2 separate regions of the Homo sapiens genome follow, and region 1 is linked to region 2. A link means that fine-mapping ties the variant in region 2 to the expression of a gene that starts in the linked region. Tissue or cell type: spinal cord. Region 2 holds a variant in brackets; the other region holds the start of a gene. All regions are shown on one strand. Distances are between the middles of the regions.

The links. PIP is the estimated chance that this variant, and not a neighbour inherited with it, causes the effect.
Region 1: SLC5A7 starts here. The variant in region 2 is fine-mapped to the expression of SLC5A7 in spinal cord (GTEx, PIP above 0.99).

What each region holds. Positions count from the first base shown.
Region 1 is chr2:107,983,310-107,991,417 of GRCh38, forward strand. SLC5A7 (solute carrier family 5 member 7) reads left to right here and starts at 3,215. Exons shown (of 9, transcript NM_021815.5): 1 at 3,215-3,454; 2 at 4,796-5,024. The coding sequence starts at 4,847.
Region 2 is chr2:107,886,129-107,894,236 of GRCh38, forward strand. It overlaps RGPD4 (RANBP2 like and GRIP domain containing 4), which reads left to right. Exons shown (of 23, transcript NM_182588.3): 23 at 4,593-6,416. The coding sequence ends at 4,603. The region is part of intron 1 of LOC124906057 (a long non-coding RNA gene); the gene reads right to left. Among named protein-coding and RNA genes, the nearest start is that of RGPD4, 63 kb to the left of the region's middle. The variant G/T (reference allele first, on the strand shown) is at 3,539.

The DNA.
Region 1 (8,108 bases), 97 kb after region 2:
GTCAGAATTCATGCTGTGGGGCCTTAGTATCTGCAATTTTTCAAGAACTCTACAATTCCGATAGTCACCCTGGTTTGGAAATGACTGGCCAATTTTAATTTAAGCTAAATGTAATCCATTAAAAAGTATGAAAGATTTGAGTTGACATTGTATGGGGAAACTGGAGCATTAGGAAGGATAATAACTTCAGCAAAATGGGCCCCCACAGTCTCAATATGCATTTGGATCATATTTGAAGCATGTTCAAAATGTATAGACCAAGTGATGACATTCTCAAATTACCAAAGCTGTTATTAAAAAAGAAAAATGTAATGCTGACGCTGCTGTTCCATGAAGTGTACTTTGAATGGCAAGGTCAGAGGGTGTTAACCTATTAAAGACAGGGATCTTTTCATTTCAATCAATTGAGTATATACCTAGCACAAAGCAGCAGGTGTTTTGTTGTTGTTGTTGTTGTTCGTTGAGACAGAGTCTCTCTCTGTCAGCCAGACTGGAGTGCAGTGGCACAATCTCGGCTCACTGCAACCTCCACCTCCAGGGCTCAAGGAATTCTCCTGCCTCAGCCTCCCGAGTAGCTGGGATTACAGACATGTGCCACCATGCCCGGCTAATTTTTGTATTTTCAGTAGAGACGGGGTTTCACCATGTTAGCCAACCTGGTCTCGAACTCTTGACCTCAAATAAACCGCCCACCTCGGCCTCCCAAATTGCTGGGATTACAGGCGTGAGCCACCGTGCCCGGCCAGGTGTTTTTATATATTTATTGAATAAATGACTCTCCCCGCTCCTCCGAGAAGAATTCCTCCATCTGATTAAGACCTTTTGTTTGAACTTTCCCTAGAATCTGTGTGTACAGATATGCTACATCCTTCTCAGCACTTACAATAGTATATAGAAGTGCAGCTTTTGCTTGTTTGTTCCTTCTTTCTTTTCATGGATAAGTTACTTGAGGGCAAGGTTTGTATAATTTTCTACATGTATTCTCAGTACTGAGAACAGTGTTCAGAATGTAAAAGGCACTTAGAAAATGTGTTTTTAAAAAATAAATGATTTATAAATGCAAAACCTGCTTTTTCTCCCCAAAAGCGGGAATTGATCTCCCACTGACATGTAGTTCCCTAAGTCCGTGCATGATAACATATTCTCAGGAGAGTGGAGGAAGAGGTACACATTAAAGTACCAATATTAAAGACAAAAGAGAAATGGGTGTCTGGGAAATTACACCTTGGCACAGAAATTCACATGCAGCTTCATCCTTAGATCAGACACGGAGCGCAAAGGACTCAGCAAATGAGGAAATGTCTCCCCAGAACTAGACTCAATTCATCAGCAGTTGTCATTTTCAACTGGTGTTTCTTGTCATGGAGGACAGCCGCTCTGCCAGGCAAGAATTTGGCCACTGTCAAGGTCATTGTCCATTCTCAGATCTGGCACTGAGTCCATAGTCTGGCAAGCCTGGCTTGTCAAAGTGGATTAGGTGGGCTCTGGGAGGTGTGCTTTGGCTGCACTCCCAATTCTCATACCGAAAGGCTGGTGATGTTCTCTGAGGACGGCTGCCTCTTCAGTCTCTCTTTGGATCTGAGTCAAGCTCCCTGACCTTAGGCCTGTGCACTATTTCAGACACTGCAATTGCCCATGCCTGCCCTGCTACAGCAATAAGCTGTGTGTCATCATCATCATTAGTATATTCTGGCAGGAAATACATCAGTTAACCTGAGGCTAAGGCCCAGAATCAGAAAATGAGTTATAGAAGACAAAAACAATGAATGAATGGATGGATGAATGAATGAATGAACCTCTTTTAAAACACATGGGTAATTATATGAAATCCCATCTCTGTTTCGCTCTGTCAGTTCCTTAAAATTGCTTAAATTAATAAAATGTGTATGTAAAAATGGGGTTATATTAAAAGGCAACCTAAGTCTTTTCCAGAAAATCAATGAACTAGTCATATTACCCAGGGGAAATAACTATCTTTGCAGGCCTTTTGGCCCGTCTTAATTTCTGTTTGAACTCCCTAGGCTTTCTCACCTCAAAAGAGGTAGTTGGATGCAGTTATTGTTTATACAGAGAAGAAAGAAAAGGGGTAGTAACATAAATTTGGAAGTTAATTTCAAAATCCAGTGTAAGAAAAGGGGAGATGGTCTGATTGGCCTAGAGAGGTGAACAGTAGTTCAGAGGCACTCTTATTTATTCTATCCCTTATTAGACTTGTGTATTTCACTGTTAAATACACTCTCATGGTGGAATGCGGAAAGAAGTGAGAAAGTGGCCAGAGTGCTTGTAGCTTTGTGGCTTGTGACTCTTCTATCTTATTCTCTCCCACCCTTCTCTCTTCCTCCATTCACATTCACACAGGTATCTGCATCTATCCATGTACACCTAGATGTAGAAATACATCTATAGATACATATTTATATGTGTAATATATAAATAATCTATAAAAATAGGTAGGTATATGGATATATTGTAAACTAACACAGCAAATTTTTGTAAGCTGGAATAGGATATTCAGCAGGCCAGCTGCCCAAAGGGCTCTACCAGGAAAGCCATCTTGTCTGACTTCTGTGATAACCTCATTGTTAATCTGGACCACGCCTAGTGTCCTTCATGGTAGCCCTACTTTTAAGTGGCAGGGGTATGAATGTAAAAAGGACTTTCTAAACCTTCCTGAAATGTCTCCTTCAGGGAGCCCATCACCAGGGACGCCAGGAACAGCTTCCAACAGGGCCCAGGGGAGGCCGCGGGAGAGGACCCCTTCCCTCTCAGAGAGACTCGTCAGGAAACAATTCCAGACTCTGACCTGGGAAGAAAAGAACAGGACACTTCTCTCCTCTAGGCTTCCAGCTGCTGCTTCTGAAAATATAATCCTCTGAGACCCTCCCCATTCCCAGCTTCCAACCAGAGGGATGAGAAGTTCGACTGGGAATCACCCTAAGGAATCTCCGCCCAGTTTTCTGGAGGAGGAGATGGGAGTAGCAGGTACTTGTCTCAGGATGGGGATACCATGGCTGGCAGCGCGGACCAGAGCCCAGCCTGCCCCCCAGCTCCTTGGGCCCCGTTTCCTTCGCATCCCGCACACCCACCCTCCTCGCGAGGGCAGCGTCCCTAGCACACGCCCTAGCACCACTCTCCTCTGACGTCCGCCTCCGGATGTCTGACGATCGCCCCCGCCTGCCGCCCTTATAAAGGGGACTTTTCCCAATACTCGATCGATTCCCACCTCGCCCTGCGCCGCGCGCCCTCCGCCGGCGCCAACACCTGTCAACTCTGCGCGCTCCCAGGTTCTTGGAGACGCCGAGTGAGGAGCCGCCCTGACCGCCCGGCCCCGCTCCGCACTGCACCCCGACCCACCCCGCACCCTCCCTTTCTGCACCCTCGCACCCACACCCCTCGCGGTTCCAGGGGGCGGCGGCCCCGGGCGGAGCGCTTTCGCGTGCAGCCACCACTCCAGGTAGGAGCGGAGCGGGCATTCCTGCGCCTACGGGCCCGCACCCTCGGAAACGCCTTGGGCACCGAGCCCGGGCGGTTTTAGAGGGGAGGGACGCGGCGTTTTTCCCTCTCGGTGGGATGCGAGGGCGGGTTTGCTGTCTGGCACCGTTGCTGTCAGGGTGCAAGAGGCTACAAAGTCTGGGCGCAGGAAATGGGTAGAGGGGGCCGAGGAAAGGCCGCAGGGGGCCGGGAGAGCATCGGGCTGCTGCGGAGAGGAACTTGCCTGCTTGGTTGCTCACAAAGGCAGAGAAGACACAGCCCGCGGGCGCTTCTTTTGCCTCCTTTAAATTCCAGAGAGGCTGATTCTTTCCCCCAACGTCTCTTCACCCACCTGCACGCACAAATGTCAGAGTTTCCCCCAGAAACTTGTATGTGAGAGTTTGGGTTCATGGAACAGCTGTGGTCACAAAGGTAAAAAATAAATAAAAATAAAAATAAAAGGGGACAAGAATTTCAGAAGGTGAATGCTTTCGAACTTGACATCTGTCTTCTAAGAGTCTTGATTTTAATATCTTTGAGGCTTCTGATGTGCTTTTAGGCAATTGTGTTTAAAACAACAGCAACAACAACAACAAAACCTTTTCCTGTATGTACCATTAATGGGGGGTGATGAATTGAATGAAGGATATTGGGCGAAGAAGATCAAGAGAATGGATCCTTTCAACAACAAAAAACATACTTAGTTGCTATAGTAACTTGAACTACAGAAGCTTGTTGAAAATGTGGAGTTTGATGTGTTTTTGAAATGGATTTTTCTAAAGATTTTTTTCAGATATTTTTATATCAGATTACTACTGAAGCCATTCTCTGAAGTTGTTTGAAAGGACAGATAAAAGAATGAATAAATTAATGAATATTTTAAAATTTTCAGAATGGTCATTTATGAAACACTTAACACTTCTAGAATAAATAATTCTAGAAGAGTAACTTAGTTCCAAAACGCAGATACAGCGCTACTCTTTGTAAATGATTTGACAGTTACTGAGTTAAGATATACACGACAAGGTTAATTTTAAATTTAAAGCATGTATGAAACACACAAGGATTATGATTCCATTTGTTAAACTACATTTCCGTTTTTTTTTCTGTTTCTTGCAAACTCAAAATAATGTTAAATTGTTAAATAGAAGTAGGATAATGTAGTGGACACTTATTGTTAACTGCCCGTTTCACGTGTGGTTTCAGGGTTGTACTCTTTCTGTGAGTGGCACAGGATCTCGCATGAGCCAGCTGGTTTATTCCTGGCTGCCTACATGTGCATAGTGCTTGACTGGTTTATAATGCATCCCTGTATTTTCTTCAGAAGACTTAATGAAGTAGCCAGCTGCAGAAGAATCTGGATCATTAGATAAAAATGGCTTTCCATGTGGAAGGACTGATAGCTATCATCGTGTTCTACCTTCTAATTTTGCTGGTTGGAATATGGGCTGCCTGGAGAACCAAAAACAGTGGCAGCGCAGAAGAGCGCAGCGAAGCCATCATAGTTGGTGGCCGAGATATTGGTTTATTGGTTGGTGGATTTACCATGACAGGTACGTTCAGACGCCGCCGGCTCCATGCAGTCCTCCCTTCCTTGGCATCTGTGAGTGTGCAGCGTGTGGCTTCAGAGTGACAAAGCAAATGTTGGTCTTTGTCCTTTGGGGATTCTTTATGTTCACTAGTTATATATATTTTAAAATAATTTTCTATTGATTTAAAACCTAAAAATAAATTGGTTTCAACTCAGTAGTACTTGAACAAAAATGATTTTATAATAAATCACTGGACTGAACAGTCATGAAACAAATCTTGGCTCCCTGGGCTATTGAGTGGGTGGAAACAGAGTAAAAACAAAGAGGTGGGGGAATGGGAAGCTGTCCTAGTATTACAAGCTATGTATCTGCTAATTAATGTGATAGGCAGCATCTCAACGTGTCCGGTAATACATGCATAAAGTTGTGACTTTGAGATTTAAATAAGTGCCAATGAATACCATCTAGTGATGGTTTTTAATCTGCATAAATAAATTTGGGGGTGATGATATTCCCAATTGAGTGATTCCCTGTTTTGAAACCTAATTCTTTCATTTAATAACTAATTCCTCACAGGAAGACAATCACATGTTATGAGTCCACAGCACTAATAAAGAGATTTCATGAACCTTGTTATAAAAGGGAAAAGCTAGGGTGTGTCCTCATAGGAATCCCCAGGCCACCATCTGCAGTCATCTCTCATTCAAACCTTCTTTGTGTTAGCAGGAGCTGATATTCTTTCTTACTTTGCACTAAAGTGGTTCTGTTTAAAGGGTGATTTGTTTCTTTTTTATATTCTTCTTGGTCGTTGAAAATAATTCTGAAAAACATCAACTTAGAATTATATGTTTAATATTTAATACAGTTGCACTAACAACACATATTTCATTATACAGTCTTAGTAGAGTTTTTAAACATTTGCAACATAGCAAGAACTGTGAGCGTTCATTGGAAAAATATCCCATGGGAAATGATATCAAGTGATGCCCAATTTCAGTCCCGAAGGGCAATTTTAAAATGATTCACCGTGTATATCAGATAGTTTACCAAACCAGTCTGGGGAGAGGCCATTCATGTTCTGAACCCCTTGACTTTGGCAATCTGAAACTTACAGTGTTCTATGTGAGCCATCAGTTTTATCTTTCAGACATTGACATTTTATCTTTGTTTAACTCTTCATCTACTGTACGTGGACTCATTTGGTCTTTATAACGGCATTATGATGAGCATCTGGGGTTAAGTGGAGATCCCGGGTTACAAGGTTAACAAGGACCAGGGCTGGAGCCAGAACCAAACACAGGTCTCCGGTAACTTAGTTCCAAAATGCAAGTACTGCGTCATGCTGGTGACCGCCCCATGCTGTGCCACATGCAGCCCTGTAACTAGTTTCACTTTATTTCTTTCAAAAGGTGCACAGTTTGTAAACACTGCAGAAAGAATAAGAAAGCTGCTGCATATCAAAATATGTTGTTTATTGAAAATAATTATAGCCCTCTACTATTCTCATTTAATATTCTGTTTAATATGGTCATAAAAATAATATTTTATATTTTGTTTTTACCATTTAGAATGGTTTTTTTCAACCTAACAAGCTATTAAAAGGTACGGAAAATATTTGAATCATGCTATTTTTTATAAAGGGCCATGATCTTCCTCAGTTCGTAAAACTTTTTTTTCTTTCTCAGAACTCAAAATAACCTTGGTCAATATCATAATTCATTTAAAATCTGAACCATACTACCTAACCTTGTCAGATTGATTGACTTGGATATATTTTATAAAGAATAGAGATAAAAAATGTTGATTCTTTTAAAAATGAATATATTTTAAGAGGTTGTGTTCTCACTCATGGATCTGACACAAAATATACAAACAAGGAGAGCAAATACTGTTATAGAAGAGACTAAATTCAATTATAAAGGGGACTTTTAAATCTTAGTAAGTAGCCAAGCCCTCACTTCTATATCACAATAGTTGCAATGATTCAGTCACCAATTTTCTTTTTGGACAAGGGACAGTAGACTTACACAATGACGAATGATCACTAATGAGCTTTGTGCTTGTAAGACCATCAGACCATTTACTTTATGCAGTAAAACATTGACGTGTTAGCAATTCCAGTTGCCTGGTAGAAAGATAAAGTCTCAAGTTTTCTGCCTGTAAGAATTCATTTCTTCAGCTCATGGTTACACACACAGTGAAAAAAAAAAGCCATTTTAAAAATTTCAGCAGGGCTTAGAATAAGAAAACAAATAATGCCATTTGTTATTTTTGTTATTTGTTAACACTGAGGGTAAAAGCTACAGCAAAGGTGGGAGTGATTGCTAAATACGTATTTGTCTCCAGGATTTTGTATATAAACTTTTCATTTAAATGTACTCAAAATTCCTATGTAGGAAAATCTTTTTATGTCAACCCTAAGACTCCCTCTTCTTTGCTTTGTATTAGATTAAAAGCCAGATAAATTTTGCCATAAACACAATAGAAACACATCCTAGGTAGTTTTGTATAGATATTATTTCATTTACTTACATTCTAACTGTGAGATTTTGGAAAATTCATCAGAGTTAAATTTTATTCCTAATGGGATGATGCAATCCAGAATTCAGCCTCATATCTGATAAATTTTTATTACCAACCTGTGACCATCATAACTTTACACAAATTCTGTATAAGGATTGCTTAGAATATTTTGACTGTACTGTAACCTCAACAAGGTGTAAACTGCAAAGATTTAGTGTCCTCTTCAACATTAGTTTTTCAGCAAGGATTCAATATTATACTGTTTCCTCAGAGAAAATGGTGCTAGCATTACATTGTCTATTCAGAGAAAAATATTAATCTGTAGATCATTCTTGGCTCAAACCTGTTAAGTCAAAACTCATTTTCTTTGGTTCTTTGACCTCCTTGCCTCAGCTATTGTGCTACATAAATTTTATTTATCTGAATAAGACATTTTTCATTACTTCTTGTCAAATAGTAAATATCTTACTAAAAGATCCATATTAAAATATAGAATTGCAAGTATGTATGCAGTTCACATTTTACCTTCTTCTGAGTGCTAGGTAGTCTAGGCCTTAAGGTAACATTTAAACTCACTTTGGA
Region 2 (8,108 bases):
AACAAGAGTGGGAAAAGACATCAAACATGTTTTTACTAATCGAAGTTCTAAAAGGAGAGACAAGAATACAGCACAGATAATATATGAAGAGAATGGCTGGAAATCTTTCAGAACTGTTGAAGGATATCTATCCACAGATTCAAAAACCCAATAAAATCTCAAGCAGTATTAAAAAAAAAAAGAAGAAATCTACTTCTAGTCACATAAGAGTAAAACTGCCCCTAAAAAAGACAGACAGAAATCTCAAAAGCAGCCAGAGAAAGAAGACACATTGCCTCACAATAGACTTCTCAACAGCATTGGTGTAATACTATCTCATGTACTAAAAGAAATAACTGCCAACCTTTTATATTTTCCAAGATCTCTTCTGGAAAACAAAAACTTTAAGAATCTGCCTTCACTGAAAATTCTTAATGATGTACTTCAAGCAAAAAGAAAATTTCCTAGGTAAAAGGTCTAAGATGCCAGAAAGAAAGACATGCAAAGGAAACTTACCACCATATTACAGATATGGACTGTCAGTCTGACTGGTCACACTAGGGGGGCATTTTGTTACCAAGGCCTTGAAAATAATAACCAACACTGCATACATGAGGGATGCTAGAAGAAAGGTCTGAGAGCCACTCTTCCTGGCACTGAAGGAAACAGGGCCCATCAGAGCAAACAAGTACCTTTTACCTCTCTCATCTCCTTGGAAGCAAATGTTTATAATCTCTGGTTTTGTGTAAAGTTTATAATAGTATTTTTCATTCAGGTTGCTACCTATTAGTGGATGGTGAAATTAATTTGGTGGATCACATTCAGAATATTTTTTTAAAATCAAAAGAATACAAGCTGGGCTCAGTGACTCACACCTGTAAGCCCAACAGTTTGAGAAGACCAGGCAGGAGGATTGCTTGAGAACAGGAGTTCAGAATCAGCCTGGGCAACATGGCGAGACCCTATGTCTACAAAAATTTTAAAATATGCCAGTTCTGGTGGCATGTGCCCATAGTCCTAGCTACTCGGGAGGCTAAGGCAGCAGGATTCTTTGTTATAAGGAGTTCGAGGCTGCAGTCGAACTTCTGGTCGAAATCCTGGTCACGCCACTGCATTTCAGCCTGGGCAACAGAGTAAAACCCCATCTTTAAAAAAAATTAAGAAATAAAAATAATATGTGAAACATTAGAATATGTTGAATCTAGTAAGGCTAATGTTGAATCTAGTAAGGATAAGCAATTATTTCTTGACACTCTACATATATACATGAGTGTTGGTAAATACCTGACTGTATCATCAGCTCTAGATATAAAATGTTTATGATGTTGGCTGTGAGTTAATGATGAATAGTTTTCCTTTCTGTGGGTTTGGGTGTATTTGGGAAACATTAGCTTAGGGGGTAAAGTAGGTTACCCAACTCTGAAAAGCAGCATCAAAATCTTTATAATAAACACATACTAGGGGCCCAACTTAAATTTCAAGCAGATGTCATGAGCTGCTCAGAGTAGCGTGTTACAACTCTGCGTTATAAGGTAAAATGACTTAGAGTGTAGCAGTAGTCCCCAAACAATGTCAAATAGACAGTGGTAAGTATAGATTGCTCTTCTCCTTGCATCACAAATGTTAATTCACCCTGCCCCCACACGCATTAAAACTCAGCATATTTCACAAATTGAGTGTTTCATTTCTATTTGAGATAGACTTATGGTAAGTCAGCTTTGCTCCCCAAATAAGTTAGCCATATAGTACTTCTATATGCAAAATTTGAATCTCAATTTTACTACTCAAGCCGGAAGTAAAAGTCATTTTTCTATATCTTCTTTGCTCCCAGACTGGGTTACAGTTTACAGATCTGAATATTGTCACTTGTACACCATACATACACAGAGGTCTAAAACTCTCTACAAGTAAATAAAGAAAAAAAGCCCAGCAACCCAATAGGAAAATAGGCCAAGCCTGTTATAGGCTTTTTGATCATCTCCAGACTGGCAGGAAGAGAATGCATACTCACACTGTAAGTGCCTGATTTGATTTGCAGAGGATATAGAACCTTATCAGAAAACAACCTTCCAAGGCAAGAGCAAATGCACCCTATCTAAGCACAGCTTTTCTCCAATTCTTATTTACCTAAGGAGATGAATAGTTACCAGGAACATTGTTTGCACAAGGGCAGGAGCCTGCCAGATCTGAGAACACAGCAAAATTTTTATTTTGTCAAAAATCTTATATTCAGCTTACACCATTCATTGCAGGTGAACATACAACAGTGCATTTCAGTTTAGGGAAATGTTTACAGTCATCTGGTTCTCTTTATTCCTGGGAACAAGGTTACCTCACTTGGAACACATAACCAGTGCCAAGTTGTCCATCCCTAAGCAATATCGCTTCCTTCTACTTTCTAGAAGTTCTTCAGATTGTGGAAGAGAGACTTTTCAGAGTTCTTTGCCCTCATTCCCTCCTCCAGAAATTCATGCCTTTGTATAATCTCTTCCCCTTCAGAGCCAGTAGGCTAACCTAATGAGTTATTTTTAACCAGTAGAATACAGCAAAAATGATAGATTACAAGAGATTGTGGCTTCTATCTTGCTAGTGGACTCTCTCTGTCTTCTCTGCTTGCACACTTTGTTGAAGCAAGCTACCATCCCAGAGGCAAGGAACACAGGCCATCAGTTTAGCAGCCTTGAGGAACTAAACTCTTCCAACTACCACATAAGTTTGGAAGTAGATTCTCCAGTCCAGCCTTCAGATGAGACCCCAGCCATGCCAACATCTTGATTGCAGCCCTGTGAGAGACCTTGAAATAGAACCATTTCTGATCTCCTGACCCACAGAAACTGTGAAATAAATATGTGTTAAGGTACTAAGTTTGTAGTAATTTGTTACGCAGCAGATTGTAAATAACACGCAGATAAAACCAGACAGAACAGAAAAATAAAATGACTTTAACTCTAGAAAGTTTCCCCATGTAAAATTTTGAAAATGCTACTCTGCGTAAGGTCAAACTGTCATACATATATACGTATGAAAACACAGAATGGTGTCTGGAAGGGTAATGCCAAATTAAATCTTTATCCAAGAGGAATGAAAACCAGTATTCACACAAAATCCTATGCACAAACCTTGTGAATATATTAAAAACCAGTGAATTATGCACTTTAAAAAGGTGAATTATGTGGTATATGAATTATATCTCCAAAACATTTAATTAAAAACCTGTACACAATTATTCGTAGAAACTTTCTTTAAAATTGCTAAAAACGAGGAAGATCTCAGTTATCCTTCAACTGGCAAATGAATAAACAAACTGGTACAGCCATGCAATTGAATACTGCTCAGCAATAAAAAAGAATGCACTGCCAGTACAGCAACATGGATAATTCTCAAATGCATTATGCCAGTTGACAGAGGTCAGACTCAAAATACTATGTACAGTGTGATTCTACTTATATGACACTGAAAAAAGCAGAACTATAAGGACAGAAAACAGGTTAGCGGTTGCCAAGGAGTGGGAGAAGCAGCCAGGGAGAACTTTGAGGAGGTGAAAATGTGCCAGGCCTTG[G/T]TCGGTGGTGGTACGTAACTGTGCATTTGTCAAGACTCAGTGCTATACGCTGAAAAGGGCAGGTTTTACTATAAGTAAGTTGTACCTCAATAAACATGATTTTTAAATGATTAAAACTTTGGTTTTTGTTTGTTTTGGTTCAGTTTTAAGGTTTACCATAAATCTATTGGTTTTAGATTCTAAGTTGTATATAAGCTTCTGTTTTAAAAGAATTTTTTTTAAAATCCTCTTATCATCAACAATATTTAGTTGTGCTGGAAATTTTATTTTGGAATTGTTTAATAGAGAAAGACAATAAATAATGTTCAAGAACAGACATTGATTCATAACATCAAAGTATATTGTGAGAAGATGGTATTTCAGAATAGAGGAAGAATTTCTTATGTGCTGGTAAGATTGTAGATAATCATTTCTGCATAATTTTCATAGCTGGATTGCTTTAATAAAGCCATTTAAAGGTTAAGTTCTAGATTGCTTCATGTTGCTTATCAATGTTTTAAAGCTAAAATAGAAAATTAGCTGTTAAGTTGGCTCAACCGGAAATTCAGTATATCCTTTAAAAAGAGAAATTTAGTAAGCAGTGTGTCTAAAGAATGACATATGGTTGGGTACAGTGGCTCGTGACTGTAATCCCAACACTGTAAGGCTGAAGTGGGAGGATCACTTGAGCCCAGGAATTTGAGACCAGCCTGGAAAACAGTGAGACCTGCATCTCTACAAAAAAACAAAAAATTACCCAGGCATGGTGGCACACACCTTGTGGTCCCAGTTGCTTGGGAGGCTGAGGTGGGAGAATCACTTGAGCCTGGGAGATCAAGGCTGCACTGAAGTCTCATCACGCCACTGCACTCCAGCCTGGGTGACAGAGCAAGACCCTGTCTCAAAAAAAAAAAAAAAAAAAAAAAAAGAACCCCCCCCCCCCAACAAAAAAGGCATGTGATCAGTAAAAAAGACATTATTTGCTTATATTGTAGAGTGGTTCTAAAATATAGATTTTACATTGAGAAATTTTAATACTCTCTTTTTTCTTTTTTTTTTGTTTTACTTTCCAAAGGTGAGGAATAAAATGCTTCCCGTTCTTCTGGATGGGCATCCTATCTTCGTAGTTGGTTTGGACTTCGATAGGTTGATGGAAGGAATATTTTTATTAACCAAATAAAATCTATTTACAAAAATGGTTCATGTGTATTACCATCATTCTTTTGTCAAAAAGTGTGTATATGTTTGCATTTACATATATTTGTACATCTATATGACAGATGTATTTTAAAAGTTTCAACTTGAAGTAAAAGTACAACAGCTTGAAGTATTGATACCAGGCCACAGCCCTCTAACTCATGTGATCTCCCATGCATGCTGCCAGAATAAAACCACCAGGAATGAATTCACTCCCCACTTCTCTGGAACCTCAGGACCCGCCCATTTCTCGGCAGTACTGTGAATTTTGAAGTTAAACTAAATTTTGGTACCATACCAACTGGAATTTAGGCTTTAAAAATAATGTTTCAAGGCCAGGTGTGGTGATTCATGCCTGAAATCCCACTACTTTGGGAGGCTGAGGCTGGAGAATCGTTTGAGGCTAGTGAGCTGTGATTGTACCACTGCACTCCAGCTCGGGGAACAGAGCGAGACCTTGTCTCTAAAAATAATAATAGTAATAAAAATAACATTTTATGACTATTTATTGCAAGGTCAGATTTACAGATTGTTATAAATTGTTGAGAAATTTTTGTGATTAGAATATGAAGGAAAAAGCTTTGTTGGTAAAAGTGACATGTTAAGGGGCTATGAAGTAAATATGCTGCAGTTAATTGTGCTAAGTTAAAATACAGTTTAGTTATTTGCTTTAAAATAAACTCTTCTTTTTTTCTTTAAAGTATACTATCTCAAAACTCATTATGTTGTCAGAGCCCTAGAGCTGGCTAATGTAACACTGACTATGAGTAGGTGGGCCCACCACTTGAGTTGAGGTGATTTCATGGTGTCTTTCCAGGCTCTTGATAGGGTGTCACTGCATGCAAGCCATGAATCTGTTTTGAGAATCCTCTCCATTTTCCCAAATAAAAACCTATCCCAACAGTGACTATATCACTCAGCATTGGATCTAAATATAAAAGTGGTGCTTTCAGTGTTTTTGGCAGATAGTGTTCCATAAGCTTTCCATCAGAAGGGATTTTAGACACCTTAGAGGTCCGTGCTACATCTTCACAGTTCCTCTGAATAACCTTAGGTGGTAGTGTTACTTGCCTTTGACACCTCTGCATATGTTTTAATGACTAGATCCAAACTGTGTTGTTCTTAAATCAAAAATTGGATAATTTTTAATATTTATGTATTAATCACATAGTATGCTCTCTGAAGTTCTCTTAAGCCTTCAGTTTATACTCTTAATTTTCTTTCTGAGCTGGGGAACTGACTTTGCACTTTGGTTACACAGAACATTGGTTTCCAATTTAGTTTAACTGAAATTTGCTGCTGATATGTTGAGTTTGTTCTTTAAAAAATATCTCATATGTCTCGTCTTTCCTCCTTAGAAGAACAGACCTAACTAGCGAATGTATGAATGAAAATGCATCTATTTCAGAGCCGACATGAAGAGTTTAGTTTTTTTACTTTATAAACTGTGAATATGAGTATGCCAGCTGCATTAGATGTAACTAATCATATTTAAATATATTTCACTTTCTCTTTGACTTGAGACCTTTTGAAGTCTGTATAAACTTGTTTTGAAATATAGTCTCCACTTACAAATGTCATAACAAAATACTTTTTTGCATGATAAAAAATTGATTACAAAAGGCATATTCTTTCATGGTTTCTGCAATGAGAGGAAGTGTAATGATTATTTTAATATTTCTATTAAATATGTTTAACTGTATATTTTTATGGCAGCTCTTTTATGTTACACACTGTCTCTTTGGGGTTGTTAATTGGTTTCTGAAAGGGAACTTCAAACTCCTTTACTACTGGCCTTCCATGGTTGGTCCCTATTAGGTTGTTGTGAGAACGTCGACCAACTCTTTGATACCCGCCACGTAGACCGTAGTACCTGCCATGTCTGACACCCTGCATCCAGCTAAAACCAGAAACAGCGCTGGGCCTCCCTGTGGACAAGACATTGATTTGACCAGAAGCAGATGTCTGGCTAAGGCTGCCAACCAAAGGGTGGCCTTAGATGAAGGGCTTTGTTCAGTTAGGGGCAGAGGTCATTAATTTTTTTTTTTTTTTTTTTGAGACAGAGTCTTGCTCTGTCGCCCAGGCGTGAGTGCAATGGCGCGATTTCGGGTCACTGCAAGCTCTGCCTCCCAGGTTCACGCCATTCTCCTGCCTCAGCCTCCTAAGTAGCTGGGACTACAGGCGCCCGCCACCATGCCCGGCTAATTTTTTGTATTTTTAGTAGAGACGGGGTTTCACCGTGTTAGCCAGGATGGTCTCGATCTCCTGGAGGTAATTAATTTCTTTGGATGTTTGGACTAGGAGATGGGGAGAGGCAGAGCAGAAAGAGAAACACAGATGCCGCAAGAAGGAGGAACAGAGCTAACCCTGGATAGGACTGGACACAGCAGCCAGACCAAGAGAGGCATCTAGTGAGAAGCAGCTCTTCAGCCCTGGGCCTGGTGCACACATCACTCCTTGGTTTCTAAGAACCAAATTTGGCCCAGCACAGTGGCTCATGCCTGTAATCCCAGCACCTTGGGAGGCCAAAGCGGGTAGATCATGAGGTCAAGAGATCGAGACCATCCTGGCCAACATGGTGAAACCCCGTCTCTACTAAAAACACACAAAAAATCAGCTGGGCATGGTGGTGTGCACCTGTAGTCCCAGCTACTTGGGAGGCTGAGGCAGGAGAATCACTTGAACCCGGGTGGCAGAGTCCAGTGAGCTGAGATCACACTACTGCACTCCAGCCTGGTGACAGAGTGAGACTCCGTCAAAAAAATAAATAAAAATAAAGCCAAATTCATACAGTCCCTGAGGAGTGGGAACTGATGCACATCTCTTGTATACAATAAGCTATGCTTGTGCTCTGAACAGTGTAAGATTGAGAATTGTATTCCTTTAAAGAAAGTTCAGCAGAACTGTAACTGAATTACTAACAAGGCACTGAGAAGGCATACCGTACTTTGTATTCTTTTTAAAGTCCCTGTTAGGTGGTGGTGTAGCTGGAAGTGTATAGTATTGAGGATGTAAAGTTTCCCCTAAAAAATTTTTGGTATTTGGCGAATGGCATAACACATCAAAAAATTGGTTGTATCACATGATTAAATTGCAACGTGATGATTTCAACTTGGTGGAAGACTTCTGCTTCGTCTTGGTATGTGAAAATCCCCTTTGCTTCAAACTTAATACACACCAAGGAAAACAACCTGATACAAGTTTGCAAGTGTCTTTGAGCTAATGGCTTTTCATGGGTATTAAAAAGCATTGAGTTATTTATGTATAATTACGTAGAAAGAAAATGTTTGTTCCATTCAAGATACGGTTACACGAAAAGGCATCTAGTTGTGACCTTCAAATTATTACTTATATACCTACAGAAAATTCCTATAAATAGTCTGGGTGCGATGGT